Homo sapiens: one gene and its partners. The protein of the gene in region 3 interacts with the protein of the main gene of each other region in a pairwise test. Each region holds a gene or a part of one and is shown on either strand. Other genes may lie near its edges.

The links.
Region 1: the proteins of TLK1 (region 3) and GPRASP3 interact in binary tests that used the Homo sapiens proteins (3 or more experiments, as listed by UniProt).
Region 2: the proteins of TLK1 (region 3) and LHX2 interact in binary tests that used the Homo sapiens proteins (3 or more experiments, as listed by UniProt).
Region 4: the proteins of TLK1 (region 3) and DPPA4 interact in binary tests that used the Homo sapiens proteins (3 or more experiments, as listed by UniProt).

Annotation. Positions count from the first base shown.
Region 1 is NC_000023.11:102,723,132-102,731,159, reverse strand, and holds part of GPRASP3 (G protein-coupled receptor associated sorting protein 3), read right to left. Parts: exon of another isoform or gene 6,299-8,028; intron 1-6,298. UniProt on the Homo sapiens protein: Survival and differentiation promoting protein that plays a role in the regulation of neurosynaptogenesis. Induces phosphatase PP2A activity which results in APP dephosphorylation and inhibits BACE1-mediated processing of APP.
Region 2 is NC_000009.12:124,028,116-124,034,177, forward strand, and holds the end of LHX2 (LIM/homeobox protein Lhx2), read left to right. Parts: intron 1-4,304; coding exon 4,305-4,592; 3' UTR 4,593-5,186; downstream 5,187-6,062. UniProt on the Homo sapiens protein: Acts as a transcriptional activator. Stimulates the promoter of the alpha-glycoprotein gene. Transcriptional regulatory protein involved in the control of cell differentiation in developing lymphoid and neural cell types.
Region 3 is NC_000002.12:171,150,620-171,158,647, forward strand, and holds part of TLK1 (serine/threonine-protein kinase tousled-like 1), read right to left. Parts: intron 1-8,028. UniProt on the Homo sapiens protein: Rapidly and transiently inhibited by phosphorylation following the generation of DNA double-stranded breaks during S-phase. This is cell cycle checkpoint and ATM-pathway dependent and appears to regulate processes involved in chromatin assembly.
Region 4 is NC_000003.12:109,333,745-109,341,805, forward strand, and holds the start of DPPA4 (developmental pluripotency-associated protein 4), read right to left. Parts: upstream 3,803-8,061; 5' UTR 3,774-3,802; coding exon 3,720-3,773; intron 2,964-3,719; exon of another isoform or gene 2,577-2,963; intron 250-2,576; coding exon 126-249; intron 1-125. UniProt on the Homo sapiens protein: May be involved in the maintenance of active epigenetic status of target genes. May inhibit differentiation of embryonic cells into a primitive ectoderm lineage.

The DNA of each region.
Region 1 (8,028 bases), on a different chromosome or scaffold from region 3:
ACTTTTTTGGTATTTATCCTGCTTAGTATTTTCTAAAATTCCTGGATCTGTGGTTGGATGTTTGTCATTGATTTTGGAAAATTCTCAGCTGTTATTATTTGAAATATTTCTTCTGCTCCAAATTCACTGTTTTCTTTCTAGTATTCCAACTATGCATATGTTATACCTTTCAAAATCATCCCACAGTGCTTCAATGTTCAGTTCTTTTTTTCATTTCAATTTGGAAGTTTCTATTGTGAAAAGAAAATAAAAACCCAGGACCCTGATTCACTATGCCAAAAGGAAAATATTAAGCTGAAAGCTGAGTCATGCAATAAAATACCTTTCTTTTTTTTTTTGTTCCTAAGCAGATAGCTACAGATAAAAGGTTAAATATCTCCACAGGTAGATATTACACATTTTCCTTACCTTATGTAAAGTGCTGATTTACTGTGAGCCAGAGGAATACAGAATTGACTATTCCTGTTTCTGCTCCTTTTCCCTTGCATCATGTGGATTACTGTACCCTCCCTCTTCCCCTCTAGCCTGCTGTTTCCATTTAAATATTGAAGCCCTCAAAATTATCTTTGGATAAAGGCACAGACCACAGACTGTTTCTGTGATTCCATGCTCTTTTCTTCTGGGAATGTCTTCACCTTGGCAAAATAAACTTCTAAATCAATTGAGACATGTCTTACATACTTTTTAGTTTACACTATTGACCTATCTTCAAGCTCAGGAGTCCCCAGCCCCTAGGCCACGGACCTGGACCCGTCCATGGCCTGTTAGGAACTGGGTCACACAGCAGGAGGTGAGTGGCGGGCTAGCCAGTAAATCTTCATCTGTATATACAGCCACTCCCCATCACTTTCATTGCCGCCTGAGCTCCGCCTTCTGGAAGATCAGCAGTGGCATTAGATTCTCATAAGAGCACAAACCGTATTGTGAACTGCACATGTGAAGGATCTAGGTTGCATGCTCCTTATGAGAATCTAATGCCTGATGATCTGTCACTGCCTCCCATCACCCCAAGATGGGACCATCTAGCTTTACAAAAACAATCTCCGGGCTCCCAGTGATTCTACATTATGGTGAATTGTATAATTATTTCATTATCTATTACAATGTAATAATAATAGAAATAAAGTACATAATACATGTAATGCACTTCAATTGTCCTGAAACCATGCCATTCGCCCCCCAGTCTATGGAAAAATTGTCTTCCACGAAATCTGCCCCTGGTGCCAAAAAAGATTGGGGACTGCTACTCAAGCTTGCTGAGTCTTTCCTCAACTGTGTCCAGTCTACTGATAATCCCATCAAAGGCATTCTTCATTTGCTGGAGTGCAGTGGCACAATTTCGGCTCACTGCAACCTCCACCTCCCGGGTTCAAGCGATTCTCCTGCCTCAGCCTCCTGAGTAGCTGGGATTACAGGCACCCGCCACCACGCCCAGCTAATTTTTGTACTTTTAGTAGAGATGGGGTTTCTCCATGTTGGCCAGGCTGATCTTGAACTCCTGACCTCAGGTGATCTACCCACCTCAGCCTCCCAAAGTGTTGGGATTACAGGCGTGAGCCACTGTGCCTGGGCTCTGTTACAGTATTTTTGATTTCTAGCATTTCCCTAAATATTCTTCTCAGGGAGAGTTTACATTTTGCAGCTCTTTTAACTGTTATTCACTGTTATCCACTATTATTATAATAAAGCCTTGTTAGCATGGTGGTGAAGTGCAGAGGAGAGGAAGTGTTCTATAATATTATGATTAAATTTCAGTCTTTTGTGGGCCTGTGTCCCTGGGCTTTGATTTTCATAAGAGTTTTATTTTAGCGCCTTTCTCTCCCTTACATGAGACTAGAAACCTAAAGGGGGCTGAAATAGGAGAAACGCCTTTCCCTCAGCTGAGATAAGGCTCTGATAAAGTCTTTTCCACCACAGAATAGGCTTTTTTTTTAAAAAATGAAGAAGGCTCTGGGTGTATTTCACAAAAGTACAGTTCCCTTCCCACTGCAGGGGCCATGAGGCCCTTCACTGCAAGAATATGGTGGGTTTCTTGGAAGTAATGCCCACAAAAGTGTGGGGACCTCCCTGACTGCAGATCCTCAGGGGTTTCTCACTCTCATATTATTCCACACTCAGTCTCCAGCAATTCATCAAAATTACATTTAAGTGCTCTTACCTATTTATGTCTCTAGCAGTTTCTGTTCTATGAAAGAAGAAATAGGCTGTGACTCTCTGGATTTGCCTTCAGAATTTGGGGTAGTCAACTGTCCTATGCCTCAGTTCTTTGAAGAATCTAAGAAATGTTGTTGATTCTGTTTGTTCAGATTTTTTTCTGGTTGTAAGTACAGGAGCAATGACTTACAAGTTCTTACATGTTGGAACTGAAACTGGAAGTCTGGCTATGGGTTTTAACAGGGAAGCTAAAGAGCAGTGAAAAATAAAAAATAAAAAATTTAAAATGGGCTGGGTGTGGTGGCTCACACCTTTAATCTCAGCACTTTGGGAGTCCAAGGTGGGAGGATCGCTTAAGTCCAGGAGCTCAAGAGCAGCCTAGGCAACATAGCAAGACCCCCTCTCTATTTAAAAAAAAAAAAAAAAAAAAAAAAAAGCAGTGCACATTGCTTTTGTCTGCTTCTTTTCTGCTGAACATCACATCTGGGAATTAGGTTGCCCTGGAAAACCCAGCTGCTCCATAAATATTAGCTCTTTTCACTCCCAGGTACAGGAAATTTATGGGGCTCCCTGAACCTGACATCTCAGCCCAAAAATTTGTAATGTGCAATGCAAATTAGACTTTTGACCTCCTGAATCAAAATTCCTGGTAATGGCCATGCACAATGGCTCATGCCTGTGATTCCAGCACTTTGGGAGGCCAAGGTGGGAGGGTCACTTGAGTGCAGGAATTCAAGACTGGCCTGGGCAATGCAGTTATACCTTGTTTCTACAAAAAATCTTTAAAAATTGAAAAATATATATATTATTGGTAATGAAGTCTGAGGAACTGTAACTTAATGCTAGGAGAGAAAAGTTGTCTATGTCACTACCACCACCACCACCATCAAGAGGCAGTGCATGATACTATTAGAATCTATAGTTTACATTAACTGCCTAATGATTGTTAAGTGCTTGCTTAGACTAGAGTAACTAGTTTCTGAGCCCTGGGAGTACATTCTAAAGGGAGTTTGTACAGAAGAGTTGGGAGTACCCAGATTTCAGAGCCAGACAGTCCAAAGTCTGAATACAGACTTTGTCACTATTTGTGTAACTTTAGCAAAGGTACTTAACGTCTTTATAACCCAGTTTCTTCATCCTTAAAAGGGAGCTGGCATTAACTACTTTACAGGATTATTGTGTATACTGAGAAAACTATTTGATATCCTGCACAACATGTGTATATCAGATCTTTCTAGTTCTTTTAAAATTTCTGATCTATTCCTATTATGGAGTGGGCTGGAGAAAGCAAGAAAGAATAGATGAGAACTACATGGTTTTTAAAGGTCATAATTGCTAAGTCAGTGTCACTGTGCTCTTTGTGCTGTAGCCTCAGTGCTTTGTATATTCTGTGTTGCTTACCATAACCCTTTACTAAAAGGATGCCATTTTTGCATAGTTGCCACTGCAGGTTACTGACTTTCTCCTCCTTTTAGTCACATGTCACAGAGAGGCTAATTCCATTTCCAAGAGTGAGTCTCTTTGGTCTACGGATAATCTATCCCCTTGGTACTCTCTTGTTTAGGAAGAGGCATTGATCAAATTCCACTCAATGTGACATTAGGGGAAGGTTACAGATGGACTTCTGAGGAAAGTGTCCTCATTCATAAGACAAAGTCATCAGAAAAGATTGTCTTTTCTTCTTCCTCAGGAAGTTGCTTACCTCCTGGAATTGTTGTAGCCATCAAGCTATCAGCCTTAGGACGGAAGTTGATATTGTGAATGGCAGAAGAAAGAGACGGAAAAAAGCTGAGTCCTTCGCTGAATTAAACAACCATCAAGGCTGCCCTACGTCAGTACTTACAATCATTGGATAATTAATTTCCTTATTAAGTTAGTTTTAGTTGAATTCCTTGTTATATGAAAATGGAACAATCCTAGATGTGCTCAGGCACAAAACAGCTCTTCAGTGAGTAAGAATTCCTGACTTGTGTCCATCAGTGAGCATCAGTGAGCACCTACATCTGCAGTAGCAGAACTCATGTTTCCCAGGAAAGAAAAGCCAGAAATTCTCAACACGTGTCCTAATGATTGCTAGAGGTCTGACAACTGTTTGGCTTCTGCTCCAGATTAAAAAGTAAAGCTTTAGGCAGAAGCCAAACTCTGACTTATCTAGGAGGTCCAGAGGTACATTAAATACTTAAGATAATAGATAAACCTAGTTTCAATTCAGAGGATCATTGTGTGAAGGTGCACCCTTGTGAAATATCCAGATTATAAAGATATCAAAGGTTACCTGCTTTCAGTTCAGGGGACTGTGCTGATATTGAGAAAGACACATTTACAGTGTCGACAGTTAGAACAATATGATTAATTTTCCCAGGTGCACTAAACAACAAAGGTATAGAAAGTCGTAGATACTTGAGATTTATCCAGAGTTGGGGTTTCTCCAGGACAGTGGAGCCAGGCACTAGAGGATGAGGTAGAAGAGTAGTAAAAATAAGTACTGTGATGGGCATTGGGTTGGGAAGGAAGGAAAGGGTGGAATAGGCTGATAAACAGGGAAAAAAGGATAAGGGACAGGAGGTCTAACAATATTCAGGTTTAATTTCTTTATGATAAATACTTTGCTACAAGCTTTGAGGAACAGAAGATCTGATTGTAAAAACAGTTACAATGATCATGGATGCTTTTATTGATAACTAGCACTGGAGGAATATAGACATAGCATAGAAGTAATGCACATCAGCTCCAGATTCAAACCACAAAGGTGGGAATGTCACCTCCTCTGCTAACCAACTCAGTGAGGTTGGCTAAGCTACTTAACCAATGTGTGCCTCAGCTTCCTCATATGTAGAATGGAAACAATAGCAGCACCTACCTCATAAGTTTGTTTTGAGGATTAACTAAGTGAATACATTTAGAGCCCTTAGTAGAGTACCCTGGCACATAGAAATCACCCAATAAATCCAATAAATCTTAATATTAACACAAATTACTATTTTAAGTAGTAAACATTCAGGCTTTGCAGTCAGACAGACTGGGGTTTGAATCACACTTCCAGAGTCCAAGCTTCTTTCTCTATGCTTCCTGTCCCTCAACACTAGTTCTATGTTATTCATTAAAAAATAAAAATAAAAAAATAAAAAGACTCTGATGCATGGTATAAAGAAACAAGTGGGATGGGCGCAGTGGCTCACGCCTGTAATCCCAGCACTTTGGGTGGCCGAGGCGGGTGGATCACCTGAGGTCAGGAGTTCAAGAGCAGCCTGGCCAACATGGCAAAACCCTGTCTCCACTAAAAATACAAAAATTAGCCGGGCATAAATTAATGGTGCAAAAATCAGTGGTGTGTGCCTGTAATCCCAGCTACTAGCGGGGCTGAGGCAGGAGGATCGCTTGAACTTGGGAGACAGAAGTTGCAGTGAGCTGAGATCGTGCCACTGCACTCCAGCCTGGGTGACGAAGTGAGACTCCGTCTCAAAAAAAAAAAAAAAAAGAAACAAGTGGCCAAGTGGCAAATAAAATATTGTGTAAGTACAAAGAATGGAGGAATTACTTCCTACCAAGGGGCAAGGGATAAGGGCGAGGAGGTATCAGACTTCAAAAAGGCCCTGGCATTTGAACTGAGCCCAAATGATGTTTCCCATAGACAGAAAAAGGGTAAGAACATTGAAGATTGAAGGGACAGCATGTGGGAAAGGCATAAAAGTAGTAAAGCACACAATACAGTTGGGAAAACAACAGATTTTCCAGTGGGGCTTGACTGCAGGCAAAGTGGGGCAAGGCCTGGAATAGTGTGAGGCACTTGAGAACAAGAGCTTCTTTCTTCATTTCATTCTAGTCCTGGCCTTGACTTGGAAGAATGTTATGAGAGATGGAGATAGAAAGGCAGACTTGTATTAAAGGGTGCAAGGTTGTGAAAGCCTTGATAGAAAATCTGGTGGTATTTTATAGATGAGATCCCATTGAAGGTTGCTCTTTTGAAATTGGGGGCAGAGTTGAGAATTAGTGGCTGCTAAAAGTCCAGACTAGACAGATGAAAAATTCACTCTGATACTATCCCCACACAACAACATTTTAGGCCAAGTGACATCTGAAGTAGCCTCTATTATATAAAGTAGCCCATAATATTTATCAAAAAAGGGAGAAGGAACAAGAGGACTGAGTGAATGATGAAGTTTTTATTTCAACTACACCCCAGAAAAATAATTGAGGAAGGATTCTACCCGCTACAAGTCAGAACAAAGGCAATCATCATTTTGCTTGGATACACACACACACACACACACACACACACACACACACCAGTCACCCTGCTCTTCGGCTGAGATTAAAAAATTCTACAGGCATAAACTGTTTAAGTATCTGCTTTGGAGTACATTTGGGACTTAGAAGTATTTAATCAGGCCACAATTTGAAGTTTTCTAAATATAAATGCAATACCCACAACAGGAATTCTAGGCTAAGGGAGCTGTGATAAGAAAAAAAATGATGACAGGATAGATGGATAGATAGATTAGATAGATAGACACATAGATAGATATAGATAAATAGATACATAGATAATTTTAAAAATTATCTAAATTACAGGTACATGCCACAAAAACAGACTGCTTTTTTCACCCATAATACACTGTTGGGTCTGAATCCTTCATTTTAACTTGTTGATGTAGAATACACAGCAAAGGTAAGCTTTATGTATATTAATCTAGGTGTGGCTGCTAAAACTAGGGAAAATTACACTATTGTTCTGATATCAAATATTTGAAACCAACTACTTGGAGTTAGCATTGGACTCCACAGGTTTAAGGGCACAATCACCAACAATACTGCCCCCACTTTAGATCAGATACCAGCCCCAATTCTCAGGAAGCCACCCATGCTTCTGACTGACCACTTATAAATTCAGGAGTTCCTATGACATTATGAGGTTTCATAATTAACTGAAACAACTCGTAGAACTCAAGAAAAGTGCTATTCTTATTATTACAGTTTCATTTAAGGATATACACAGGACAAGGTCTGAAAGCATTCTGGACACAAAGCTTCCATACCCTCTCCTTATGGAGTCAGGGTACACCACTCTCCCTAGAGAACAATATGTTCACCAACCAAGAAGCTCCACTTATCCCTGAAGTTCAAAGTTTTCACTGGGGTTTTATTACATAGGCAAGATTGATTAAACCATTGGTTGTGATTGAACTTAATACCTAGCCCCACTACCTTCCCTGAAGGTTGAGCTGGCCCAAAGTTCCAACCCTTTAATCACATGGTTGGTCCTTCTGGTGACCAGTCCCCATCCTGAAGCTATCTAGGGGCCCACCATAAGTCACTTCATTAGCATAACAAAGATACTCCTGTCACACAGGAAATTCCAAGATTTTTTGAAGCTGTGTCAGCAACTAGGGATAAAGATCAGCTATATTCTCTATTATACCACACCATACTTGAAGTCTTCTCTGTTGACATACTCGAAAAAACACACAGAGACAAGAGACAAGACAGCTTGAGTAGAAAACCATAAGCTGAATGCTGGCCCCAGTACTTATATTATCAGAATTCTGGAGAGTAAAGAGAAGAAAATAATAGGAGAGGGTAGGAGACGAGGATGCAGTCCTAGGGACTAATCTCTACCTATGATTTTGCCCCACATACCTTGTATCTATCCTAGCTTTTAAGTCTAAATAGGAGGGCTTAAAGTAGTAGAACAACATAGTTTCAACTCTATAAACTTGGTATAAACATAAGGATAGGAGTGGGATTAGAAAAAGTCATTTCTTCCTAGCAACACTTTCTTACACTGACTTTGTATGTATTGTGATATATGAAGAAATCAGCATTTGATCTTTTTTATTTTGATTGAAATTTGAAATGAGTTATTTTTAAAATTTT
Region 2 (6,062 bases), on a different chromosome or scaffold from region 3:
GCAAAGTGGGTTTCCCACTGGCCCTCCTGGCTTTCTTGATGAAAGAATTCTGGGGAAGGAGGTTTGTGAGGCAAAACACAACTTGCATGGTCAGGTAGTGCCTGGGAAGGGGCAAGAAGCAACGTGTGCTTCTTCATCTACCCAGGGCTTATTGGAGATCTACCGCGCACCAGGCTGGGGCACCCCGGCCTGGTGTTAGTTGTGTCCTGATGATTCTCTGTCTGAACTTCGCCTTCTTGTCCCAGACACACAGTCCAGAGAACTTGAGGCATGTGAAAAGAGAAGGCCTGTCAGTTTCAGAAGATGGGTGGGTGGGGCAGACTGCACCTTGTTGCTTGCAGCTGCCTAAGAATCCCAGCCTGTCAGAACCCTGAGAGCCATAGAGATCGTATGATGTGGTCTAACCCTCTTGTTGTACAAGTGAAGAAACTGAGGCCGGTCCAGAGGTGAGGGACAAACCCGAGGTCACGTGGTAGTCCCAGGACTGGAAGCTGCTCTTTCCACTGCACTATAGTTGCTTCTCTGTTTCTTCATCCATTTATTCACTCATTCATGGACTTGCTACCTCCCTCAGGACCATGTGGCAGGGAGAGCATGGACTCTTTTAGGGCAAGTGGTCCTGGATTCCAGTCTCAGGTTGCCCTCTGTGTGACCTTTGGCAAGTGGTTTTACCACTCTGACCCTCTCTGGTTTTTAAATCTATACAGTGAGGGCAGGCACGGTGGCTCATGCCTATAATCCCAGAACTTTGGGAGGCCAAGGTGGGCGGATCACCTGAGGTCAGGAGTTCAAGACCAGCCTGGCCAACATGGTGAAACTCCGTCTGTACTAAAAATACAAAAAAATTAGCCAGGCATGGTGGCGGGTGCCTGTAATCCCAGCCACTCAGGAGATTGAGGCAGGAGAGAATCACTTGAACCTGGGAGGCAGAGGTTGAAATGAGCTGAGATCGTGCCACTGCACTCCAGCCTGGGTGACAGAGCAAGACTCTGTCTCAAAAAATAATAATAATAATAATAATAGTCAATAAATAAATCTATAAAATGGGAATAATAATAGTCGAATCCACCTACTTGGCTTTTCATGGGAATAACCTGTGGCAGTGCATGCTGGAGGGTGGCATGGAGCCTGGCACATAGTAAAAGGTACATACATGTCAGCCATTCCTATGAATACATATTACTGATTCTTAATCTCTGCCAGTCTCTGCCATGCACCGGGGGACATGAAGATAGCATAGAAAGGGTCCCTGCTCCCATCAAACTCTCAGGAGTGGACTTTTTGAAATACCTGGGAGAGAATTCTAGTGAAGCCCTGACAACATGAAGAACAAACCCCACACAACCCCAGAGCAGCCGGGCTTTTAATGAAGTTGTTGAATTTTCATCTACCAGATTCCCAGTGCCTCAGCTCTGGAAAGCAGAGAAGGTAGTTGTGGACGATGGTGTCATTGTTTACAAGCCCACTGTTAGGGGCAACAGCCTGAGAAATAGCAAACAGCCGGCAACTAACCGGGTCCAGCCCTGCCCGAGGTCTTGGAGCCCCGGATGGATGAGCAAATGAGCACCCGGCAAAGCACCCTCAAACCCTCGACCCAGGCTCCCCGCTCCAGCTACTGCTCTGAGAGTCAGACGCACAGAGCACAGGCTGCTCAGGGGTCACACGCACACAGGCCAGGACAGTGGCAAGGCAGCGGCACCAAGGCTCCGGCCTTCTCCACCCCAATCTGCATGACTTTGGGGAAGTCACTTCCTCTCTCTGAGGGCCTCTGGGGGCTTCCCCATCCATTTTCTTTAGGCCACCAGGACACAGTCTCTCCCCTACAGATTTCTGCTGGCCGGGAAAGGGAAGGACCCCCCCACCCCAGGGAAAGCATGTCAAGGGTGGTCTGAGAAGCACTGTACTTATTTGCCAGCCCCCAGAAGGGGTGATGGGCTTTCTTTGGGCGGAGAGCCAGGGAAAATGTGCCTTCTTCCTGGGAAGATCCAGCACTGAGGAGGGAGCTTGGTTTCTCCACTTCACAGGGTCTGGATCTCCCACTTTACTCCAAGATTCTTGTGGATTTGCTTTTAATTGAGCCCAAATTGTGTTACGCCACCAGAAACGGGGGTTTGAGGCCACAGGCCCCTGCAGCCGGGGTGGTCCCAAGGGGTGCGTGGGGCCAGGAGTCAGCCCTCCCTCTCCTGCCAGAGACACTGGGAAGACAGGCAGATGCAGGACATCTGGAAATGCGCAACTGGACACCCCAGAATCTGCAGAGTGCCCTGAGGCCCTTTGTTTTATGGGGAGGCTTCTGGCGGGTGTTTTCCTCACGCAAAGGGAAGTGAAGGGGCCCTGCCTTTCAGGACTTTTTCCTTGGAAGGTTCAACCCCCCCAGAGTGGCCTGGATTTCCTAAGCCCCTCCCAAAGTACTTCGTGGACCTCTGGGTACAGCGGGTCCCTGTGTTTGTGCTGTTAGATGGGTGGTGGTACTTAGGTGCTGGCTGTGTAGATGAATTTCATTTTTCTTTTCTTTTTTTTTTTTTTTTTTTTTTGAGATGGAGTCTTGCTCTGTGGCCCAGGCTGGAGTGCAGTGGTGGGATCTTGGCTCACTGTATCCTCCGCCTCCCGGGTTCAAGCAGTTCTTCTGTCTCAGCCTCCCGAGTAGCTGAGGTTACAGGAGCGCACCATCACACCCAGCTAATTTTTTATATTTTTAGTAGAGATGGGGTTTCACCATGTTGGACAGGCTGGTCTCGAACTGCTGACCTCAAGTGATCCACCTGCCTCGGCCTCCCAAAGTGCTGGGATTACGGGCTTGAGCCACTGTGCCCGTCCTTAGATGAATTTCTGTGTGTCTTCCTGAATGCTTACAGGCGTGTGTGCAAAGATATGGGAGTGGACGCGTGTGTGTCTGTGCCCAAGGAAAAATGAAAGTAAACCCATGTTCTCTCACTGACATTCTTTTCAGACAGAGCTCAGCCCCAGCTCTGCGCCCCGCCGCACGTCCCTCATAAGTCGATACGGGATGCAGCAGGTCGGGAGAGAGACTCTGCGGGTTTCAACTTCCCTGGCCTCACTTTAATTTGGCTGCCGTTCCCACGCTGCCTACCTCCACCCACCTCCACCCTGAGACCTGACACCCAGTGGCCCAGGGTACCTGGTGGCTCCCCCAACCGATGATGGGGATAGGTTCCGTGTCTTTCACTTCCTCTTAGTAACTCATTATTATTGCCTGATTCTCATGTGTTCTTTATCGCATTCCCAGACTTACTGACCACAAAACATTTAAAACATTTTACCAACAAGAACTTGTGGGGTTTATTGTCTGCTGAAAGGCAACTGCCAAAAAAGGAAAAAGAAAAAAAAAAAAGGAATGTCTCAAAGAACCATTAGGAAAAGGATCAAGATTTGTCTGGTGTGTGTGTTTGGTGTGTCTGATAGAAATGCAACATGAGGCACACATTTAATTTTAAGTTTTAAATGTCCTAGTAGCCTCCTTGAAGAAATGAAGAGAGACAAGTAAAAGTAAAATTAATTTTAATAATGTATTTTGCTTAACTCAGTATAGCCAAACTATTAATCATTTCGACATGTAATCAATATAAAAATTATTGAGATATTCTACCTGCTTTTTTTTTCATATTCAGCCTTCAGATAGGTTGTGTGTTTTCACCTGCAGACTGGTTGAATTTGGGCTAATGCCATTTTAAGTGCTCAGCAGCCATACGTGGCTCGTGGCTGTGATATTCGGGAGTACAGCTCAGCTCTGGAACCACCTATCAGAAAGAGAAGCCCAGCCGTAGCCCATTAGATAGAGTGAAATTTTTGTTTTATTTTATTAAGAGCAAAATATTGGCCAGGTGCAGTGGCTCACATCTGTAATCCCAACGCTTTAGGAGGCTGAGGCAGGAGGGATCACTTGAAGCCTGGAGTTTGAGACCAGCCTGGTCAACATTGCAAGACCCCGTCTCTACAAAAAATAACTTAAAAAGTTAGCGGGGCCGGTGGTGCTCACCTATCTATAGCCCCAGCTACCCAGGAGGCTGAGGCGGGAGGATCGCTTGATCCCAGGAGTTAGAAGCTGCAGTGAGTCGAGATTGTGTCACTGCACTTCAGCCTGGGGGACCAAGCCAGACCCTGTCTGCAAACAAAAACAAAAACAAAAAAACCAAAAAAGCAAAATATTGCCAACCTGACTTTTTGGATCCTCTTGGCAAAACACAGATCAGCGTCCCCAGAGGCAGCAGAGCTCTGAGTGAAGCAGTCGGGGGGATGCTCTGCCTGCCTTCCGCTCACCAGCCCTTCCCTGTCGTCCCCCGCAGGTCTGGTTCCAGAACGCCCGAGCCAAGTTCAGGCGCAACCTCTTACGGCAGGAAAACACGGGCGTGGACAAGTCGACAGACGCGGCGCTGCAGACAGGGACGCCATCGGGCCCGGCCTCGGAGCTCTCCAACGCCTCGCTCAGCCCCTCCAGCACGCCCACCACCCTGACAGACTTGACTAGCCCCACCCTGCCAACTGTGACGTCCGTCTTAACTTCTGTGCCTGGCAACCTGGAGGGCCATGAGCCTCACAGCCCCTCACAAACGACTCTTACCAACCTTTTCTAATGACTCGCAACCCCTCACCCCACAATTTCTTTAAAAAAGAAATTATCTTTAGTTGAATTCCAAGTGTATTTTAAAATAGAGGCTTTGAGCAACTAACTAACCACATTTTAGGATCTCGCCTGGAAACAGAGGTAAAAAAAAGAAGTGTGCGCCCGGCTAATGCAGCGGTGTGGACCGAGGAACAACTTGGAAGATCTACCTGCAACACAACATTTGTGTCACTGTACAGTTTTGTGGACTGAGCGAGGAAAAACAACAAATAATTTAAGTTGGCTAGAGCTTCTGTATTTTCAAAGACTGCCACGTGCCTTAGGAATACTGTTTTATCTCCATACTTTGGATGACTTGTTCATTTTTCTCTCCCTCTTTTTCTCTGTATATTTATGACCAGAGCAAAAATGTAAAAAACAAAAAAAACAACAAAAAAAGTTTGTTACTTTGAATAGTCCTAAAAAGAAAAAAAGAAAAAAAAAAAAGGAAAAATCAAACCCCCTCCAACGGTCGCTTTGTTGTTTTAGAATTTTAAGGTGGAAGTCTGTTCGAATATCAGAATTTGTAAAATCTAACCAGTAATAAAACCACTTATTGAAACTACTTGGGGCTGCTGCCATTTGGTTGGGTGTGAAATTGACAGGACCTAAGAGTTTTACTGAGGCCCAGAGATCAATTCTAGGTCTTCACATATTCATCAGATATTCCTGGGGCTCCTGTCTTGTGCCAGGCTTTGGACGGATTACAGAGATGCCGAGACAAAGATCCAATTCCTGCTCTCAAGGAATCAGAATGGTGACACGGGACAGACAAAAGATATCTTAACAGGGTGTGATATGTGCTCAAGTGGAGGATATGCAACATCCCATTCATTCATTCATTCATTATTCATTCATTCATTCTTTCAAATATTTAATGAGCACACCCTGCCAGATGCTTGTGATGCAGAGGTCAGAGGCCCTTTTCTGCTCCTGGCTGGGCTGGAAAGAAGGCATGTCAGGCGATGAGGGAGGCCTCCTGAAAAACCTGCAGCTTTTCCCTACGAGGAGTGAACGCAGTTAACAAAGGGCAGCTTAAGCTCCAGTTTTCCTAATGACACAAAATTTCAAGATCGCTAGAGAGGGCAAAAGCAAATGAATTCTGTTCCTTTCCTAAAGTTTCAGGGAACCTCAGAAACCCAGAGAAAAGACACACCCAGAGAGGAGGGAGGGTTGGAGCCAGGCAGAATGAAGTTGGAATTCCTACTGTTGAGCAGGGTGAGCTGAAGGAAGTCATTTCACTTCATTGGGCGTCAGTTTCCTCAGCTATGAGCTGAAGATAATGAATGGCCCTTGCATGGCAGTTGTAGTGGGGGCAAAAGGTAAGATGTGTTGAAGAGCCCAGCAGAAGGCCTGACACAGAGTAGGGCTCGATGCATTGTAGTGAATGACAGACAGGTGATGTGAGGACTCTGTGGGTGGAGAGCAGGAATGTGTGTAT
Region 3 (8,028 bases):
GGAAAGAGAAGCTGTCTTTCAAGTGTGGTTGCTAAGCTAAAGGTATATGTCTGGGGCTCCAGAAGCAAGAGGCTAGAAAAACCCAGAAAGGAGACAAAGAAACCCAATGACATTACTTGCAACCTTGGATCTAGCTGTTTCCAAAGCCATTCCATCACCCTCCACATACAATACCCAGTATGTGAACCAATACACTCATTTTTTAACTTAACAAAGTCGTGTTGTTATTACGTGTAACCAAAGGATTCATGACTAACATCCTACCTAAAGAAGAGTAGTTAACCAATTATAGTGCATCCATTCAAGGAAATAACATTGACAGAATAGTGTAACTGTTAAGAGCATGTACTCAGCCCAGTCTGAATCCTGGCTCTGCTAAATATTCTCTATGTGTGCCTGGGTACATTCCTTTTTTTTTTTTAGACAAGGCCTCACTCTGTTGCCCTGGCTGGAGTGTAGTGGCGTAATCACGGCTCACTGCAGCCTCAACCTCCTGGGCTCAGGCGATCCACCTCAGCCTCCCAACTAGCTGCAACTACAGGCGTGCACCACAATGCCCGGCTAATTTTTGTATATTTTTGTAGAGACAGGGTTTCACCATGTTGTCCAGGCTGGTCTCGAACTCCTGCGCTCAAGCCATCTGCCCACCTCAGCCTCCCTAAATGCCGGGATTACAGGCATGAGCCACTGTGCCTGGCCCTTGGATACATTACTTAACTTCTCTATGCCTCAATTTCCTCATCTATAAAGTCGGGATAATAACAGGACTTCATGTGATTGTTAGGAGAAGCAAATGAATTACTATTTACAAATGCCGGGAATAGTGTCCAGCATTAATAAATATGTGTATCTTTTTTTTTTTTTTTTTTTTTTGAGACGGAGTCTTGCTCTGTCGCCCAGGCTGGAGTGCAGTGGCGCCATCTCAGCTCACTGCAAGCTCTGCCTCCCAGGTTCACACCATTCTCCCGCCTCAGCCTCCCGAGTAGCTGGGACTACAGGCGCCCACCACCACGCCCAGCTAATTTTTTTGTATTTTTAGTAGAGACAGGGTTTCACCGTGTTAGCCAGGATGGTCTCGATCTCCTGACCTCGTGATCCGCCCGCCTCAGCCTCCCAAAGTGCTGGGATTACAGGCGTGAGCCACCGCGCCCAGCCATGTGTATCTTTAAGTAAATGAAATAAGTATCTTTAAGTAAATGAAATAAGTAACAGAGTAGTATACAAAGTTGAACTAAACTACATATTTACACAGATGTTTAAAAGAAATCGGCAAGGAAAAGGGAAATTTTATATTTTTTATGAGGCAAATATACAGTATCAAAAAAGGAAAAAAGTAAAACATGTCTCTGGTCTTAGGAGACAGGATGAGTATGATTAGCCTCACACAAACCCCTCTGACCTTCACCAGAGGAACTACATTCATCCTCAGATAGGAAGCACTTACCTAAGTGTCCAGTGGGGAATCATGAAGTCACACAACTTATCATATTAACAGCAAGAATTTAAACCTAGTAGTTTATTTACTCCAGCTAATTAGTTTTCAAGGAAAAGCACAAATTTATGAGTATAACCAATTCTTAACAATCCACATAGATGAAGAGGAAAAAATATTTTAAGTCATCCCCCCAAAATACTTATATTTGGCTAATGAATCTATGTAGAATATAATCACTTTTATTTAAATACAGGTTAAATTGCCTTCTTGAAATTCATTAAATTTCAGACCTAATGATGAAGCCACATTGGAAAAATTTAATTCAAGTTTGACAACCTACCACCTGGATCTGCTCTGCTCTGCATATCTTTCCACTCCATGACTGATAAATTCCTATCAATCCATTCAAATCCTGCCTCTCAATTAGGTTTGCTATATAATACATGCTACCAAAGGTTTTGTTATTGTTGTTGTTGTTGTTGTTGTTAGCAATAAAAGAATTAAAACTAAGTATTTTTTTAAAATACTTTTTTACAGATTAGCTAGACTGCACATCCTCTTCCCCTTGCCCATACTGAATACTATTAACAGAGTCAAAGATCTGCCACTAAAGCATTATAATTTAGTTTAAAGCCTTGTCCATCAGGTTATAAAGCCTCCACAATAAATAGACTGCTCCGATACTGACAGTGGGAAGTTTTTTGTTCAAATTCTAGTATTTACTTGTTATGGCTCCAGTGGGTTTATGAGGCCAAAATATCAAGATAAATGGAATTACAAATTAGATTATCTAACATGGAAATAAAATTTTTCATTGATGTATCTCTAACATTTTCCATGAATGGACAAAACTTATCTTAAAAAAATGAAGTGTAGGATTTGCACAGCTGGTACAGCTTTCTAAATTGGGTTGTTTGGTTGGGGTTTTTGTATTTTTTTAAATCTTATCTTCACACGTGTATAAAAACTCATGCAAAAAAAAGTTAACAAAAGTTTAGAAGTAAAATGAATAAGCCTGGAAGTCTGATTAGTAAGTTAAAATCTGCTTAGGAAAAACTACTAAAATACTAAAAACCAAATTTTCATATTTTAGGCAATATATCCTAGTGATTAAAATACACCAACTTGGTTCAAATCCCCATCATGTACTACTCTAGGTCACACTGGTAAGTCACTTTACTTCTCTGTGCTTCAGTTTTCTCATCTGAAGATGGGAATAACAACTGTATGTAACTCAGAGTTATGAGATATAAGAATTAACATGTGCGAACACAATAAACTTTAGCTATTACTGTTACTGTTATCCATATCACCCTCTAAAATATAGTTCACTTAAGAATTACTAAAATAAGCATCTTCCTGGGTCTGAAATATGTGCATACCATGATATATAGAGAGATGATGTATGTGAAACAGTCCTTTGACAAAACTTTTAGTTGAGTGCCAACTCTGTAGAGGATGTCCTCCTGTGCACTGAAAATACGAAAATGAACAAAATATAGTCTCTGAATTCAAGACCTTTCTGTCTAGTAGACAATATAAATAAAACTATAATAAAAGTAGCATGATGCAGATGCTATGGAAACAGACAATCCTGTGAGACACTAAACAACACAGGCACTTAACTAGGGGCAGACACAGGGGTCCCAGATAAAATAAACTCCAGCAATATTTTCTGAGGAACAATCACCTACTTACTTCACTTCCGGGTATCACACTGTTATTTACGCAATTTATATTATTAATATATTAATAAGTGTTTTACAAAAAACAAGACTACCTATCACACTACTTACCATGCTCATAAACTTAAATACCCTTTGGTATTAATGAAGATGTTTTCTTTTTTCTTTTTTGAGACAGGGTGTCACTGTGTTGCCCAGGCTGGAGTGCAGTGGCATGATCATAGCTCACTGCATCAACTGCAGTCTTGAACTGCTGGGATCAAGGTGGGATCCTCCCACCTCAGCCTCCCCAGTAGCTAGGACTACCGACATATGCCACCATACCCAGCTAACTTTTTTTTTTTTTTGAGACAGGATCAGGCTAGTCTCAAACTCCTGGACTCAAGCAATCCTCTTGCCTTGGTCTCCCAAAGCTGGGATTACAGGCCTGAGACATAGCACCTCGCCTGATGATATTCTCTTAAAAAAACAAAATATAACCTTGCAAAGGTTATACTGCCTCTTCAAGAAACATTTCTTTCACCAATAAATAAAAGCTACAAACTTTCCCCTAATAAATTATATTACGACTAATGTCACAGGAATGACAATATTTTTGAGCTGGAAGAGACCTTTGAGAGCCTCTAATCCAATGCTCTCATTTTACAGATGAAAAGAGGCTGTAAAGTATAATGGAAAAAAAAAACCAACCTGAGAGTCAGAAAACTGAATTTTGGGCCCAACTGTCTTACAGTGAAAGCCTGTGCAAATTATCTGCTTCCTCATCTGTAAAATGAGAGGTTTGTACTAGATTGCTTCCAAGATCCGGTTCAGCTCTGTAATTCTTAGTTTATGGAACTGAAGCAGAGATAAGCAACTTGCCCAAGGTCACACAGCTAGTTAATAGCAAAGTAAAGACTATCCTCAGATCCCAACTACAATCACTTTCTCCCCTATACCATACTGCTTCTACTACTTCATAACAATATTCCTGTAATTTATTTTAAGATTCTTGAAAATTATTAACAAGCATGAAGGAGTTTATGAAACTACATGACTGATTTCTACAGCTCTTCTATAGGAAATGAGCTTTAAATCCAAATGCAACAAGTACATGAGGTCTCAAGCTGGGTATTATTACTTACTACACTTATTAATATTAAATTGACCCCAAGAAAGTTATGAGAATTTATGCTTAAATTCCCACCACCTAAAAATCCAACTCACAGAAGAGATTATGTGCCATGCAAAATTAAAATATGAATTGTTATAAGTAATGATACATATTATAGGTATAATTCTAGGAATAAGATGAGAATTTAAATTCTTCATTTTATGTTCTAGTTATACTTAATATGCATTTTAAATTCAAAAGAGATCAATTTAAACACTTTTCTTTCTTCTTCCCTCTTTTCAGACTCTCTAGCTTTAAAAACATTAGAATAACTTAAGCATATTACTTCTGAAATCACGTAAACAATTACAAATAAAAGACTATATAAACTATGCTCATAATTTCTCTTACAAAATTGAAAATCAGCCCCCATAGTATTCTAAAATTCTGTGCTGAAATATATTACAACTCTACTAAACTGTATCATAAACAGCATTTGGTTCTCTAAAATGTCTTAAGCTTATTATATTTCACAGGGAATTTAGCAAGATTTCATGAAGACTGATCTTGCTGACACAAGAAAAGACAGAAAAATCCTCAGAGGAAAAGCACAATAAAAATGCAAAATAGTAATAAAGTCAACAACAACAGTAGTTTCATACTACTGACTTGCAAGAACATTCAAAAACGTTAATGAATATATATAAGTATAGTTTAACTATATTTAGGGATTTTTAAAAAATCACAGAATGTTTACATTTTTAAATTGGATGAAGCCTTAAGTCACTAATCCAATAGCACTCATCGTAAGAATCTACAGAATTTATCTCCACCTCCCCAAAAAATATGTCCCTGTAGTCCACTTTAAATTCTCAAAACTAACTACTTCTTTCCATTGTTGTTAGCTGTTGCGAGTTCCATTGTTGCTCCACTGTTCCACTGTTCCAAGTCTAGTTGTCATACAGTTCTTACATTCTGGTAAAAAATTAGACTGACCTCAATGTCTTCCTAATTTTCACCCGTTGGTCTGCCTTCTAAAGCAGGAGAATGGATCTATTCTCCCTCCTATTTATTAAAATTAACAGGTTTTTAAATCCTATTTACTGAAATCCAAGTTTCTTAAATACCTGGAGACAGCTATCACGTCTCCCAACCGTTAGTCTCTTCTTTAAATGTATCTTCCATAGACTTCCTGTAGGTCCTAGAGACATTTTTGGAATACAATATGCTTTCACATTGTCAGTAACTTAAAAAACAAAAAACAAAAAACTGCCACTTGTTGAATTTTGATGTAATACCAAAGAAGAATACTCACTCTTTCCTTTTCCAACCATATATCTACATGAAGCTGGATTCTCTTCACATATCTCAACCAAAACATCATAACAGACTGAAGGCAGACAAAAAATCCAGCTGTCTTCTCCAAGTAAGCCAGAAATCAAGGTGATTTGCAAAAATATAAAACAATGCCACTGGTCTAGTTTCTTTGGTTTTAGGACATATTTATTCTTCATAAAAAATTCTATTTACAACACAGTTTAAATTAATAAATATATTTGAAATTGTCATTTAATTTCTAAAAGAGCAAATATTAGTAGATATAATCTACATAAACCTAAATCTCTTGGGGTCCTCAATAATTGTTAAGAGAGTAAAGAGGCCCTGAGGCCAAAAGGCTAAAGCATAGTCTATTTCTCATAAGATTTTCAAACCTCCGTTCTGGTTTCTCTCTTTTATCTCTCTCCTCTAATATGTAAATGTGCCATTGTAAAGGAGACATCTGTCACATATCTATTCATGAGCTAGAATCCTTAAACACATAACCCTGTCCTCCTCCAGCTAGTGATTTCAAAAAATTAAAGGCCTACAGGGCCATCTGGTACACCTTCGTTTTTAACATCTCATTACTAAATCATCTGAAGTCAATTACTTTAATTCTTCTAAGGAATGCAGTCTTTAAATATGGAAACAGAGGAAGTTTACAGTTTAATCGAACTATCATGCCATCTTTTTTTTGAGAAAGTATCTCACTCTGTCACCCAGGCTGGAATGCAATGACGCTATCTAGGCTTACCGCAGCCTCCACCTCCCAGGCTCAAGCAATCCTCCCAACTCAGCCTCCTGAACCATGCCCAGCTAATTTTTCTATTTTTTGTAGAGACAGGGTTTCACCATGTTGTCCAGGCTGGTCTTGAACTCCTGAGCTCAAGCAATCCACCTGCCTAGGCCTCCCAAAGTGCTGGGATTACAGGCTTGAGCCACCACTCCTGGCCCATACAATCTTTTTGACCAAGCTTTCACTATTTACAAAAAAGTAAAGCAAATTATTTATAATTGGCAGGTTGGAGCAGGAAAGAAAATGCAAGTGTTCTATATAATCAATCATCTGATTCTCAGCAATAACCCATTCAAAAGTACCCATGTACTGATATGCAAAAAAACCCAACTACTTATCTAGCCAATATGACACTAGGTTCCTAGACTTCAACAAAGCAAAACTGGCCTTTACTTGAAAACCTTTTTAACTCGTCACTCCCTTAATCACAGGATTATAGAAGACAAAATGGGATGGAGATTATAGGTTTAAAAGATTCAACAGAAAATCTAGAGCTACATCGCTGAACTCCTCTAACAGAACCACAAGACTGACAAGCGAAAAGCTTTGGGACCCGAGGGAAAGAAATCTATACTATATTTATCACATAATTTCCTAAATTCTAATAGATTCCCAAATCTTATAGAGCTGTATTTTATTTGTGATAAAACTATGTGAATATGATAATGGTAATAAGGTAAAAAGAAACAAAACTACAACATACAGCATCAAAAATAATCAGATCATAATCTTAGGTTTGTGGTTTCAAATGTCAAAACTTCAAAATAAGTAACTTTTACAGATGCTTATGGCATATTTTTAAAAATAACCCATTTTCAAAGTTAAGTCTGCCTAAAAGGAGTTCATCACATAGAATATTTATGTAAGTTCACATACATGTGTATCTCTTTTAAGTTTCAATTATTCTATTACTATATGTTAAACTGACTCAATTTTTCAAGAAACAAAGTTAGTTTTCACCGTGATACATACAATACATTCAAGTTCCATTAATATTAACGGTTCTTACTAGCAGTAACTAGCAGTTAAAAAGCTTTCTAAAACTTCATCAATTTATATAATGTACTAACATGTATACCTGGAAAAGGTGCTAAACACTTAAAATAAAAACTGAGATTTCGCTCAATAGAAATCATCTCCATTTTGACACTCAGGGCTTCATATTCCTGTTAGCGTTAGTGAAATCTGAGAACACATCGCCAAGCTTCAAAATGAATATAACCCTAGAGAGGATTAATAGTTTCAACTTGCATGCTGGTTGGTCAAAAAGAAATATCCCCCTGTAGCTATACAGGTACTCGGTGTGAAGTGTAACTTTCACAAAAGCCTGTCCTATGATTTCATGAATTAACAGAAACTCACTACTTTAGGTTACATAAAAACCCACTGTAATCTAAACTGCCGGAAAAAATTATGGTTATTTGGAAGTTCAAGCTAAATGATTCCAACCCCTCCAAATTTTCAAACATCAGGAAAAGTGCAGAATGTTTTTAAGTTGAAGTAACCTCAGAAACTCACAATCTAGATGTTTTGTCTCCCAAATTCCCAATACTGATAACAGATATCAAGAGATAATTCAACACTATGTCCTCAGTATCCAGTTCACGGCCTGGCTCACAGTAATGGCTCAATAAATATTCGAGAAACGAATGAATGAATGAATGAATGAATGATGATATAGCCTTAAACAAGAAACAAT
Region 4 (8,061 bases), on a different chromosome or scaffold from region 3:
CCATGAAGTGCAGGATTTGCACAATACATGATGGAAATTTCTTCCCTGGTTTTTCTTCTTCAGAAAAATTCCTCTGGCTTCTAAGACCCGAGAAGGTGGGATTTGAGAATTTGAAGACCTCTTACCTTTACTGCCTTTGATAGACATTTTTTCTTTGGTTCTCTTTGCTGATGTTCCTGGCAAAGCAATTGAATTTGGTTGATTAGAAGCCTGCTGATCCTCTTCCCTCGACTTCTCTGTGGAGGTCCACTGGGGAACAGAGGAGCTGGTCAGTCATTCCTCTAGTGTCCAAACCACACATACACTACCTGCCTCAAGATAACTCACTTCTAAGGCACCAACGCAGTTACTGGACTCCACTGGCAGTGTGGATTCTCCTCTGGGTATCATCTTAATACTCAGTTTCATTTACAAGACTGGGAAACAATGATGGAAAAAAAGGGAGGAAGCCAGTTTGAAAGCACATGAAAAGACAGATACAAACAAGAGTAGAAGAAAACAGCTCTGCCTTGAGGGGAAAAAGCGCTTAGGTAGGCTCACGCCTGTAGTCTGAGTGCTATAGGAGGCCTAGGCAAGAGGATTGCTTGAGTCCAGTAACTGGATACCAGCCTGAGCAACAACATAGTGAAACCTTGCCTCTACATAAGGAAACAAAATTAGCTGAGCATGGTGGTGTGTGCGTGTAGTCCAGCTACTCGAGACTGAGATAGGAGGATTGCTTGAGCCAGGGAGGTAGGTAGAGGCTGCACCACTGCACTCCAGCCTGGGTGACAGAATGAGACTGTCTCAAAAAAAAAAAAGAGGCCCTTAACTCACTTACTATATTCCATCATCTCTCACCTGGCAGAATTTTTTCCCCCAGTCCTTCATTCTTGACGCCTTCCAAATAATTTTCTAACACTGTTGGCAGAGTGACACTATGAAAAGTTTCAGTGGTTTATTGCTCTTAACATAAAAGTAATTGTCTTTAACATTACCTACCAGCCTCTTATCTCCTATTTCACACTGCTCTCCCTGACCAAGCTCCAGCCACATAATTCCTTTCCTTTCCAAAGTTGTTACATTCCTCAGCCCCAACCTCCACCCTACTTCTATTTACACTTTAAAATCTTACACCTTAAAAATCTTACTCTTCTTTTAAAAGTCTCACCTCAAGTGCTATTTAACCTGGTCCTTCCAGACCAATCTACTAAATACTACCTCATTTCTACCACTTGTTAATTGCAATTACATTGGTTTGTGTGATTTCTTTTTCATCATAGGCACTCAATAAATATTGGTTCATTGAATTAAAGGAAGCAAAGTGGGAGTGGGGAAAAGTTGTTTAATCCAGAGACAGTAACATATATTGAGCCTCTGTCTCATACTAGGCATTGGCTTTGATATGCTCCTCACTTTCATTTTTTTAAAAAATATTTATTTATTAAAGAAAAGGTCTTGCCCTGTCACACAGGCTGGAGTGCAGTGACAGGACCATAGCTCACTCCAAGCTCTACCTCCCGGGTTCAAGTGATCTTTTGCCTCAGCCTCCTGAGCAGGTGGGACTACAGGATAATTTTTTGTAGAGGTGAGGTCTCCCTATGTCTCCCCCCACTGATCTCAATCTTCTAGCCTCAAGCAATCTTCCCGCCTTGGCTCCCCAAAGAGTTGGGATTAAAGGCGCGAGCCACTGCGCCCAAGGGTTCCCTATTTTCTTTTTCTCTGAGAGGAGTCTCGCTCTGTCACCCCGGCTGTAGTGCAGTGGTCCAATCTCGGCTCACTGCAACTTCCATCTCCCCGGTTTAAGCAATTCTCTGCCTCAGCCTCCCCACTAGCTGGAATTACAGGCGCCTGCCACCACACCCGGCTGAATTTTTCTATTTTTAGTAGAGATGGGGGTTTCACCATGTTGGCCAGGCTGGTCTCAAACTCCTGGCCTCAAGTGATCCGCCCACCTCAGCCTCCCAAAGTGCTGGGATTACAGGCGTGTGCCACTGTGCCTGGCCTTGGCCTTCCTTTTTTCATTCATTTAATTCTCATAGCAATCTGGCAACAATTACTTCTCAGACACAGAAGCTGAGAATCAGAGGTAACATAAAGACACAGATTAGGGGTACATTAGATATAAATTAAAATTTAAATATAAAGGCTAGGCTCCGTGGCTCACGCCTGTAATCCCGGCACTTTGGGAGGCCGAGGTGGGCTGACCGATTGAGGTCAGGAGTTCGAGACCAGCCTGGCTAACATATCGAAACTCAGTCACTACCAAAAATACAAAAACTACCTGGGCGTGGTGGTGCGTGCCTGCAATCCCAGCTAATCGAGAGGCTGAGTCAGGAGAATCGCTTGAACCCGGGAAGCAGAGGCTGCAGTGAGCCGAGATCGGCTACTGCACACCACTCTGGGCGACAGAGTCAAACTCATTAAAAAAAAAAAATTAATATAATAAAATTTCTCCTAAATCTAAATCCTTTTCTTCACTTTCAGGGTGGATTACTGGACAAATTAACATTTGTATGGCATTTTTACATCTCTATAGCAGTTCTACATTTTGATTTGAAATTTATATTTGCATAAACCTTACAAAAAGTACTCACTTTGGACCTCACAAAAGACTTAAAACCGAGACAGTTAAAAATGACCCAGTTCAAGTCAAGAGGACCTGAGAGCGCTCGGATATGGCCGTTCAGTGCCTGTGCAACGTCTTAAATCCTCTCTTCCTTCAGTTTCTGTCTGCATTGTTCCCAATGTCTGGCTTCTGATTACTCCTAGGTCCTAAGGACGCTGGGAAAAGGGGACGAATTCATTCTCAGCACCCTCGGTTTAGGATCTGTGTCCGTCTAAAGGAAATTAAGGGGTTTCATTCTTTTCCAAACTCAGCTCAATTACCTCTTCCTAAAATCTTTCCTTTAACACCCTTTTCTCCTGTTACCATTTCCCTCTAGCCCCCATATTCAGTTAGTTCTTTCTGACAGGACTAAGCACCTCTTCAAAACAGAAAACCCGGGCCGGGAGCAGCGGCGGGCGCCTGCAGTCCCAGTAGCACTTTGGTAAGCCGAGGTGGGAGGATCGTTTGAGCCTGGGCGGTTACAGTGAATAGTGATGGTGCCACTGCACTCCAGCCAGGGAGACAAAAGTGAAACCCTGTTCCAAAACACAAACCTGAAAACCTAATTTTTTAACTTTTTCTTTTGAGGTGGAGTTTCGCTCTGGTTGCCCAAGCTGGGGGTGCAATGGGGCGATCTCGGCTCACCGCAACCCCCGACTCCCGGGTTCAAGCGATTCTCCTGCCTCAGCCTCCCGAGTAGCTGGGATTACAGGTGTGCGCCACCACACCTGGCTAATTTTGTACTTTTAGTAGAGACGGGGTTTCTCCATTTTGGTCAGGCTGGTCTCGAACTCCCGACCTCAGGTGATCCGCCCGCCTCGGCTGCCCAAAGTGCTGGGATTACAGGCGTGAGCCACCGCGCCCGGCCTCTTTTTTTTTTTTCCCCATCTTTTGACACACTCAACCTCCTCAACTAAACCTAGAAAACCTCATTTCTTACTTGTCTGCTCACTCCAATATACCAGGCTGCAATCATATTCTTGGGCCTTACTCTTAAAATAAAAAAAAAAAAAGTCAAGAGGAGAAAATTCGAAGGCACATTCTTTTCTCCTTAAAGGAAAAATCAGGAGTGCCCAGGGAAGACAGAAACACAAAGACAGACAGAAAACAAATCCACTAAAACTGTACTGACCTCCTTGCCTTTTGCCTTCTCCATACTTGTAGAAGAAGCGGAGCCTCGCAACATGCTTCCAAAATGGCCCCTGCCCCAAGATTGCTATTTGCAAAGTCTCCTCCCACTTCCTGCCGCCCGAAGACCCTTTTTCTCTCCACCTCACCTCTTCTTTTCTTCTCCCCTTCTGTTCCCTCCCCCACAATTTGTAAATGCTAAAATTGCATTCTTTCTTATTCATGGGGTGACTTTTGTCTGGGTTGAATTACTAATACTATTCCTGGCCCTTTTCTGTTCACTTTAAATGTAATTATCCAAAGTATGGTTCCGGAGACATTGGGAGATTGAGCACTCCTTCAGAACGATTCTACGGGGAAAAAAAACAAAAAACAAAAAACAAAAAAACAGTGGCCAGAGACTTGAGCAGGATGTGTGAAGGGATTTAATAATGGAACTTGTGGCAACAGTAGACTTCAGAGACCAGACTGGCGGCTTGAAGAAAGCTATTTTCTCGTACCAAATACATTCCATTTCCTAAGTAAGTTACTCAACCAACTAAAACTCCAGGTTTCTCTGTACTAATACCGAGCATCTTTTCATCTGCCAACGAACTAATAATAGTAGCTTTTAAAGTCTATAGAGTATTTGTTATTTATTTTGTAGAGGGCAAGTGGGGGGGTCTGGCTATTTTGACCTGGCTGGTCTCGAACTCCTGCCCTCAAGTAATTCTCCAGCCTTGTCCTCCCAAAGTGTTGGGATTACAGGCGTGAGCCACCACTCCCCGCCCGAGTATTTTTTTATATCTCAAATTGTGAGTTTTAAATTCAGTCATTATTGTTCCCCATTTTATATATGACTAAAGTTGGTATAAATTTTTATTGGTAACTTTTTCAATAGCACAGTAAGTGAACCCCTAACCTACTGACTCCCAAAGAAGTTCAAGTTTTTCTCCTTAAAATAATTTGAAAAATCTTTCCTCAGATCAGTGCTCCCTGTCAGATTGTCAAGAGATGTGAAGTGAAGGAAGCAGTGGCTGTGCGACTGAAACCCTCCCTTGTCAGGGTCCAAAGTCTCTTTTGTTCTTTGGTTTACTTTGTTGTTTTTTTTTCCTACATCTCATTGCTTGTCCTAAAATGATAAATAAGAGACTGTCTTTATCCAAATGGTGTTAGTAATCTGCTCACAGGCTAGAAATCCACGGACAGAAAAAGTAAGTAAACGGAGCCCAGGAATAGAGAAGGAAGTGCAGGTTGTGGACTGGGCAACCCCCAAGGCGGCAAAGAGGAAACCAGGTGAGTTGAGGTCATCTGGGAGATATTAGGGCTTTGATTTAACAATTCTTTACCACAGCCTTTGGTAACCACCAGTAGGACTTTCTAATTAAGGTTTGTGTATAAAGTGTATAACTGAATCATCTTTCTTTTGTCAGTGTAATTGAACGTAACATTCAGAATAACTGGAGTTCTGGGCTGGGCATGGTGGCTCACGCCTGTAATCTCAGCACTTTGGGGGGCTGAGGTGGGCAGGTCACTTGAGTTCAGGAGTTTTGAGACCAGCCTGGCCAACAATGGCAGAACCCCTTCTCTACTAAAAATGCAAAAATTAGCCGGGCATGGTGCGTGCCTGTAATCCCAGCTACCAAGGAGGTTGAGGCAGGAGAATTGCTTGAGCTGGAGAGGCAGAGGTTGCAGTGAGTCAAGATCGTGCCATTGCACTCCAGCCTGGGTGACAGTGTGAGACTCCATCTCAAAATAAAACATAAAATAAAAATAAAACATAAAAACACAGACACCAAATCCAGGCCAGATTGATTCATTTTTAAATGTAAGGCTTTAGCAGCTAGCCAGACAGGATTTAAACCCAACCTCCCCTTCACTAGCTGTGTGACCTGGGCAATAACGTTAGGTCTCTTTGTTTTCTCATCCATGAAATGAGAGTCATGAAAATAATAGCCTTTACTTAGAGGGTTGTGGGCATGTCTGGAGAAAACAGTGTCTGGAGAAAACAGTGGCTGGCACAGCACATGTTGGGATCAGAAGAGCAGGGCGTGGTGGCTCATGCCAGTAATCCCAGCACTTTGGGAGGCAGGAGAATCGCTTGAGCTCATGAGTTCAAGACCAGCCTGGGCAATATAGTGAAACCCCATTTCTACCAAAAATACAAAAAATTACCAGGCGTGGTGGCGCAGGGGTGCCAGCTACTCGAGAGGCTGAGGTGGGAGGATCGCTTGAGTCCAAGAGGTGGAGGTTGCAGTGTGATCATGCCGCTGTACTCCAGTCTGGGTGACATAGTGAGACCTTGTTTCAAGAAAAAGACAAAAAAAAAAAAAAAAAAAGAGTTGGAGAGGAATGAATTTGAGAGATTTAGGGGTATTCTGGTTGGGTTTTCTTTTATTTTTCCTTTTCCTTTTTTTTTTTTTAAGAGGTCTCCCTATATTGCCCAGGCTGGTCCCAGGTGAAACTCCTGGTCTCACATGATCCTCCAGCTGTAGCCTCCCGAGTAGCTGGGACTAAAGGCCAGCACCCCTAAGCCCAGCTTTTTCTTTTCGCTTTCTTTTTTTATAAAAAGTTTTTTAATTGTGTAAAATGAACTGAATTAATGAGTCCTTTAGTTTACCCGGAGGCAGTGAGTCTTCCAAAGTCATTAATCTGCATCTGCAGAAAACAAACCAGCATTGATTCATATGTAACACTGTTTCCTAACAGAATGGAGAGAGGGGGCAGGAGGTGTGGCTGTGGGGGAGGGAGGGAACCCTTGTCTGTGTCTCTCTGCTGTGTATTCCAGAAGCGCTGAGTCAAAAGCTGGGTTTATTTAATATCTATATAGAGTTCCCCAATTTATAACAGTGCATGAAAATACCTCTTTCCCCATGTCCAAGAGTCTAGTATTTTAACAAGTACACTAGTACTTGACACACCTAATTTATAATAATTCTACCTTGTAGTATCTCCTATAGTGGATAATCATTGCCGTTTTAGTGGTTATTTTACTGTAGGAAAAGGTGAGTCAGTTAAAATTAAATTTAGGGAGTAAGGCAGATCATGAGGTTAATTAATAACTTTTGTTTAAAAAGGGAAAAGTTGGAGGTAGATGATAGATCTGGTTATCATCAAAAACAAGAAAACCCAAACCTATTTGCTTATAAACAATTTCCCTCCCTCCCTCATTTCCTCCCTTCCTTCATATCTTATTTTTATTTTTTATTTGAGACAGAGTCTCGCTCTGTAGTCCAGGCTGGAGTGCAGTGGCGCAATCTCAGCTCACTGCAACCTATGCCTCCTGGGTTTTTAAGCGATTCTCGTGCCTCAGCTTCCCAAATAGCTGGGATTACAGGCGCCAGCCACCACGCCCGGCTAATTTTTTTTTTTTTTTTTTAATTTTTTTTTTTGAGACAGAGTTTCGCTCTTGTTGCCCAGGCTGGAGTGCAATGGCGAGATATTGGCTCACCGCAACCTCCGCCTCCCGGGTTCAAGCGATTCTCCTGCTTCAGCTTCCCGAGTAGCTGGGCTTACAGGCATGTGCCACCACGCCCCCTAATTTTTTGTATTTTTAGTAGAGACGGGGTTTCACCTTTAGCCAGGATGGTCTCGATTTCCTGACCTCAAGTGACCCGCCCGCCTTGGCCTCCCAAAGTGCTGGGATTACAGGCGTGAGCCATCATGCCCAGCCCTCCTTCATATCTTTTTTTGTTTGTTTTTTTTTTTTTGAGACGGAGTGTCGCTCTGTCGCCCAGGCTGGAGTGCAGTGACGCGATCTGGGCTCACCGCAAGCTCCGCCTCCCGGGTTCACGCCATTCTCCTGCCTCAGCCTCCCTAGTAGCTGGGACTGCAGGCGCCCGCCACCACGCCTGGCTAATTTTTTGTATTTTTTAGTAGAAACGGGGTTTCACCGTGTTAGCCAGGATGGTCTCCATCTCCTGACCTCGCGATCCGCCCGCCTCGGGCTCCCAAAGTGCTGGGATTACAGGCGTGAGCCACCGCGCCCCGCCATATCTTAAGCACTGAAAATAAAAAGGCGAGTCTGGGCGCGGCTGCACGCCTGTAATCCCAGCACTTTGGGAGGCCGAGGCGGGCGGATCACTTGAGGTCAGGAGTTTGAGACCAGCCTGGCCAACATGGCAAAACCCCGTCTCAACTAAAAATACAAAAAACAGCCGGGCGTGGTGGCGCGTGCCTGTAATCCCAGCTACTTGGAAGGCGGAGGCAGGAGAATCGCTTGAACTCGGGAGGCAGAGGTTGCGGTGGGCCGAGATCGCGCCATTGGACTCCAGCCTGGGCGACAGAGTGAGACTCTGTCTCAAAAAAAAAAAAAAAAAGAAAAGGTGGCTTTGGTCCTTAATTACCACAAAGTAGGAAGAGTTCCA